2 linked regions of the Homo sapiens genome follow. The protein of the gene in region 1 purifies or fractionates together with the protein of each later gene. This does not show direct contact. Each region holds a gene or a part of one and is shown on either strand. Other genes may lie near its edges.

Region 1 (3,500 bases):
ACACAGTGAGTCTTTACCTTTCTGGAGCTAATTGTTTGGTGTATATATAGAAAGTACTAGAGAAACAAAATTATGGCATCGAGGTCCTAGGAGTAAGTTGCCTTTAGAAAGGGAAAGTTCACTCTTCGTTTATGATTAGAAGGAAGGCTAAGGAGATAGGGAAAATGCTAGGAACATGGAGGAAGCACATGCCAAATGTCTCACCTTGTATCATCAAGTAGGTGGTTGGAGTGAAGGTGAGGGGGCAGTATTTGGGGCTGAAATAATAAATATTGCATGGATGTTGCTCTGGAGTCAGAAATGAGAGTTAATAGCATTCATTCATTCAAAACTTAGTTATTGGCATTCTGGAAAAACCAAAACTATAAAGACAAAAAACGGATCAGTGATTGCCAGGAGGGGGGCGTTAGGGGTGAGACTGACTACCAAGGAGCATGAGGGAATTAGTGATAGTGTTGCAACCATCTTATAGCTTGATAATAGTCAGACTTAAATGACTTGATGCATTTGTCAAAACTCAGAATTGCACACTAAAAGGTGAATTTTACTGTGTGTTATTAAATACCTATGTGTGCTAGGCACTGTGCTGGGAACTGGACTGCCAAGGTTTCTGCCTTCATAGAGCTTACACTCTAGTGGAGGAGACAGAAAACCAACACATTGACTAAATAAGACACGGTAATTACAGGTAATTGCGTCTTCATGGAGGTGTCATTTGAGGGGAGGACTGAAGATGCAAGACCTTAAGGCAGGAATGAGTCTGGATCAAGAAACTTCAAGGAGGCAGGGTACAATGGTTCACGCCTGTAATCCCAGCACCTTGGGAGGCTGAAGTGGTCAGATCACTTGAGGTCAGGAGTTTGAGACCGGTTTAGCCAACATTGTGAAACCCCATCTCTACTAAAAATACAAAAATTAGCCGGGTGTGGTGGCACGCGCCTGTAATTGCAGCTACTTGGGAGGCTGAGGCACAAGAATCACTTGAACCCAGGAGGCGGAGGTTGCAGTGACCTGAGATCATGCCACTTCACTCCAGCCTGGGCAACAGAGCAAAACTGTCTCAAAAAAAAAAAAAAAAAAAAAGAAAAGAAACTTTAAGGATACCTGAGCTCCTGGAGGGGGTGAGTGACAGGGAGACTAGTGTGATACGAGGTTGGAGAGGTAGGCAGGAGCCAGATTACACTGTGCCTTTCTGCCTTGGAAAATATTTTGAATTTTATTCCAAGAGCTGTGGAAAGTTCTTGGCAGTGACACAGCCTGGGGTGCTATTTACCAAAGTAAGAAAAATTTGTAACAGATGCAGAGATGAAAATCAATAACTTTGTTTGTGACAGTATTAAATTTGAAATGCCTGTCAGACATCAAAAGATATCAACTAGGCGGTGGGTTTTACAAAGTTTGGGGATCCAGGGAGAGATCTGGACTGAAATGTACACTTGGAAGTCATTATTAATATGTAGTTGTAATTTAAAGAAACTGGAGTGTCTACATCCAAACATGAGGTCTATATGTCTTGGTGCCCCTACCCCCAAAAAGCAGTCTATCACCTGTTAGAAGCTGGAGTGGAAAATGTGAACAGTGGGGGACACTTGGCACTATCAGAGATCAGCTACTTAAGAGCCCTGACTTTATAGGTCTAGCTTATGAAAGAGTCATGTCTGGTCAAGAGAGGGCTAAGGAACTAGGTGAAGTGGGTCAGTTTACACACCAAGACCTTATTGAGGGTAGAATGCAGGCTTGGTGGGTTTGGGTTGAGTGACAGCTTATGCGTGAGAGAAATGAATTGCTGAGTTAGTCATCTCAAAAATAGAGGGATGTCTTAGGAAAGCAAGTGTCAAGTAGCATATAGTGAAGTGAAAACTTTCCGAGAAAAATAATGCATAATCACGAATTCTATTTGAAGTCTGAAGTGCTGGCCACGTGTGATCTTAGAATCTTGGTGTCTGCCTTCTCGTGGGTGGGCGCAACCCAATGCTGCCATTACCCATTTGTAAATTGTTTTTTAATTCCATTCTCCTGATTTTGTCTGTAGTTGAAAGTATTTAATTATACTCTATCTATACATATCATATACTTTAGCAGCTTGACTATGTTTAAAAATAAATAAAACCACTCTCCCTTTAATTGAATTTCAGGAAACAACTAGAAGAATGGCAGAAATCTAAGGGAAAAACCTATAAACGGCCTCCTATGGAACTTAAAACAAAAAGAAAAGTAATAAAGGAAATGAATATTTCATTCTGGAAGAGCATTGAAAAAGAAGAGGAAGAAAAGAAAGCACAACTCGAACTGTCCAGTAAAATTAACAACACTCTGACAGAATGTCTGAACCTCATCGAAGGGGTAAGTGAAGAAGATAAGCTCCTCCAGCTTTGGCCCAAAGTCTTATAATTTTTAAACATATTCCTAAATATAATATAGGAGAGATAGCCTTCATCTAAGTAGAAATTTAGCTACTCTTGTAAATACAGAGTAATAATAATAATGACATGCCCATAAACAGTGTCTTTTGTGTATCTGTGCTTTTATAAGCACTTAGCTAAGATTATCTCACATAATTATCATAACCACTGTTACTATGACCACTTTACAAACAAAACTGAGGCACAAAGAAGTTGGAAAACTAATCCAAACAAACTGGCTCCAAAAGGAACTTTGCTTTCTTTGGGTATCAAGTTCTGAAGAGTACACATTTAACATTGAAACTGAGGTCAGAAGGCAAGTTTCTGTGTAAAGTTGGAGTATTCTGAATACTCTGGGTAGCTACAAATAGTATTTAAATTTTATCTTGGATTCTGCAGATAAGGATAAAATAGATGGTAGGCAAAGAGTATGATCCTTAGGAGAAATTTTTCCTGAAGGAAAAATATATTAATAAAAAATGATGGAATAAACTTCTAAGATCCTTGCCTAGAGCAAAACTCATTCAGTCCTTTGGCTGGTAATGTTGAACATCAGCAAAAAAAAGGAAAAGTTCAGTTTAAGTCTACTCCAGGCAACATTTTCACAACATCCAGTTAAATATTAACTATTTCTCCTTGTGGAATTGAACTTGAGTTCTTTTTCTTATCCTCTTTTTTTGTTGTTGTATTATTTAAAAATGAGTACCTTTTTATTATTGAAATCATTTCAAGTAATGCAGATAAATGATCAGCCCTCTCCCTCTACAAACATACATACTTAGGCATCCCAAACTTCTCTCTGGAGGTGACCACCATTGCCAGTCATTCATTCTGTTTTCATGCATGTCCATACAGTATAGGTATGTCGAGAAATGAAGTATTATATTTTTGTGAGTTGCAATTCTTTTATTCACATTTTTGTGTACTTTGGTTGTCTTTTCTTGTGTTTTCCTAGTACCAATGTTATGCTGACTTAGGCAGATGAGTTGAGTATTTTCCTTTTTGCCCTATAAACTGAAAATAGTTTGTATGACATGAGAATTATTTTTATTTTTTGAAGGTTTGATAAAAACTTGCCCATAAAAATCATCTGGACCG
Region 2 (3,500 bases), on another chromosome or scaffold:
TGTGCCCCAGGGTTCAGCATCCTGGCTGTCTCTGCCTCCCTCACTCCTGCCTCCTCTCCCACTCCCAGGACCTGGCGACTCCCCTGGCCTTTGCCCACAACCCGTCCCGGGTGTGGGAGTTCTACCACTACCGGCGGGAGGTCATGGGGAGCAAGGAGCCCAACGCCGGGCACCGCGCCATAGCCGAGTGTGAGACCCGGCTGGGCAAGCAGGGCCGGCGAGTCGTGGTCATCACCCAGAACATCGATGAGCTGCACCGCAAGGCTGGCACCAAGAACCTTCTGGAGATCCATGGTGAGAGACCCCCAGCCTCCCATTCAGGGAACCAGCTTTAAAACACCTGTCCTGCTGTTTCAGCATCACCTCTGGTGCCTTCCCTCCCTCCCTGCTGGACATCCGTCCTGTCCTATAGGATGCTGTGGCATTTCCTTTGGGGACATGTTAGTGTCCCGTGGCACCTGGGCAGCTGCCTTTGGCCATGGGAGGAGCCCCTGACCCACTAACATTATTCACTTAGCAGTTCCTCCATCCTCGCTGCTCAGGGTGGTCTAAGAGCCAGCAACATTTGGCGTCCCCCAAGAACTTGTTAAAAATGCAGAATCTCAGGCCCCATAGGCCCCACTGAATCAGAATCTGCATTTTCCCATGAGCCCAGGTGGCTGGCGTGCTTTTTATACTGGAGGAACGCTGGGGTGCACAGCTGCGTGACCCTTTCCTCTGTGGAGGGGCACGGTACTGTGAGACAATGGCCTCAATGAGCTGAGGAATAAGAGGCCTGGCCCATTGGACAGCTGGGGCTTGAGCAGGAGCAGACTGCAGCATCTTGGGGTCTCCTGTCACTCCCCCTTCATCCTGGTGGGCACTCCCCACTGAGGCTGTGCTTCTGCCCCGCCCTGGAGCCTCAGAGAGCTGCCAGCTCAGTGCTGGACACTGCACCAAGCCCACCAAGCCTGTGATGTCGGTGGACCCCACTGAGGCTGTGCTTCTGCCCTGCCCTGGAGCCTCAGGGAGCTGCCAGCTCAGTGCTGGACACTGCACCAAACCCACCAAGCCTATGATGTCGGTGGAGTTTGTCTTGGGTCCCTCTGGGCTCCTTCCTCTGTCCTGGGTAACCCCTCACCCCTTCACTCTTGTCTTCTGGCTCCTCCCTTCTTTGCTGTCACCACAAATCTAAAACATCCACTTGTCCACAGTCATAATGGGCAAACTAGGGTTTCCCCCAAGGCCATTTGCATTTAAAGAGTCTGCATTCAAATCCAAGGAATGCATTTCTTATTTTTTAAGCATTTATTTCTCTTAATTTAATTTAATTTAATTTTTTTTTTTTTTTTAGCAATGGGGGTTTCACTCTTGCCCAGGCTGGGGTGCAGTAGCCTGATCATAGCTCATTGCAGCCTTGAACTCCTGGCCTCAAGGGATCCTCCCACCTCAGCCTCCAGAGTAGCTGGGACTACAGGCACATGCCACCATGCCCAGCTACTTTTTAAAATTTTTGTGGAGAGTGTCTCACCATGTTGTCCAGGCTGGTCTCAAACTCTTGGCCTCAAGCAGTCCTCCCTCCTCAGCCTCCTAAAGTTTTGGGATTACAGGCTTGAGCCACTGTGCCAGCCAAAAATGCATTTCTAAGTGTAGCATTTCCAGAAGCAGTGCACCAGTCGGGGGTGTTTGTTTTTGCGTGTGTGTGGTGAAGCTGCCTGCTTTTACTTAGATCACCCTGATAAGGAAAGCGAGGCACTACTCATTTCGACTGTGTCTGTCTTTTGTTCATCAGGAACAGCCAGCCACCTATTAACCGAGCATCTTTTTGGTACCTACATCTGCTGGGTCTGAGCCACTTTCCATGTGCCTCTGCTGATTTCCCTGCAGTGTCAGAATGTGGGCTATGTCATCAGCATAAAACCGAGATGACAATGCCTATCTTATAGAATTGTTGTCGGGATTAAATAAGATCATATATGTGTGTTAGTCAGGACTTTTTAAAATTTCAAACGATGAGAACTCTCTTCTAACTTAGGTTAAAAAAAATCAATGGCATCTTCAGTCTGATGAAGGGTTTTTTTTAAGATGCATCATGTTTTTAATGTGGCATTTAGAATATAATCTGCCTAAACCATGATATACTATTTTATTATCCCTTAGAATTATTCTATACTTAGAGAAAGAGCTTGTTAAAACTTAGACACGTTCTTTAGAAATTATATCTTTCCAGGCATACATAAAGTATGAGTATGATAAACTGGTCCAAATATTTCTCATTATCTAGCTCTTCTAAATGATTCTGAGTGACTCAGAGCACGGATGTCTGTGTTTTCCATGCAGTTTCATGCTCTGTGTCTCGGGAGATGGATGATGCAGCGTTTCCTGAGAGAATGCCCCTCTGTTATAGCTGGGATTCTCATCCAAGCTCCTGACACACCTTCCGCAAGTTCGCTATTGGGCCTGACATGTTCTTACCAAAAGGCATCAGTGGAAAGGCTGTAGACAACAGCCAAAACTTGCTTTCCTTCCTGAAGTGGCCCTTGAAGGGTTTGTTGGCGGAAGGATCCAGGGGCTGAATCTGCCCGGTCAGGCCACGGAGAATAACAACAAAGTCACCCCATTTTTCAGTGTTCTCCTTCAACAAGTCTGTGCAAGCATGATGATGATGTTACAGTCTCATCTGGCCAGTAGCAATTGTAGGACACATCTGAATTTCAGAGATGTGAAAATGGGGAAAAATGTCTATGCTAAAACTGACAAAGTAGGTTTATTGGCTCACAAAACTGAGGAGCCTAGTGGTGCAGCTTATGTCATCTTTCCTCCCGGCCCCTGTCCCCCTCCTTCTTTCAGCTTTGCTCACTCTTTGAGGTGGCCTCCCTTCTCTCTCTGCAATTGATCTGTCTCCACGCGCCAAGGGAGAGTGCCTCCGACGGCTCCAGCTCAGCCACCTGCTCAGAAAATAAACCTCTGGGTAGGCTTGCTTGGTCCACACGCCCACCCTTCTGACCAAACACGACTGCAGAGGGATGGACACCACATGGGGGCCGTGCGCAGCATGTGGCTGAGCTTGTATTTGGGATGTGACCCACAGCCCTATTGGCTCAGCATGCGAGAGAGCAGGGATGGTGCTCCCCAAGGAAGGACTGGTGGGCAGGACGGAGCAGCGCATGTCCACTAGGGTTGAAAGTGCTCTGCACGGCACCAGTTGCCTGGTACCCATTTCATAAACTGTGGCCACCATGATTGCTTCAGCTCAATAAGTGGTGGTTAGTATTAACAATTACTTTTTTCACTTATTAGTTGATTACTTATTTATTGAGGTGCTTTTGTATAAAAGATTCAAGCTTTCTGAAATCGAAGTTAAAATTTTGTAAACATATCCCACGCCATTGAACCTTTGTCAGTCATGTCAATAAATCACGCCCTTAGATTTAGGTTGAGCTCCCTCTACCCTATTGGCAACTTCTGCCCACTTGAACACCACTCCAAGGTCATCTGATGGCACATTAGTCATGGAGTTA

Evidence for each region. The genes of interacting proteins can lie anywhere in the genome.
Region 2: the proteins of CKAP2L (region 1) and SIRT5 purify together in Homo sapiens (affinity purification with mass spectrometry; one large-scale study listed by BioGRID and IntAct). This does not show direct contact.

The regions. Positions count from the first base shown.
Region 1 is NC_000002.12:112,751,110-112,754,609, reverse strand, and holds part of CKAP2L (cytoskeleton-associated protein 2-like), read left to right. Parts: intron 1-2,135; coding exon 2,136-2,343; intron 2,344-3,500. UniProt on the Homo sapiens protein: Microtubule-associated protein required for mitotic spindle formation and cell-cycle progression in neural progenitor cells.
Region 2 is NC_000006.12:13,591,601-13,595,100, forward strand, and holds part of SIRT5 (NAD-dependent protein deacylase sirtuin-5, mitochondrial), read left to right. Parts: intron 1-68; coding exon 69-294; intron 295-3,500. UniProt on the Homo sapiens protein: NAD-dependent lysine demalonylase, desuccinylase and deglutarylase that specifically removes malonyl, succinyl and glutaryl groups on target proteins.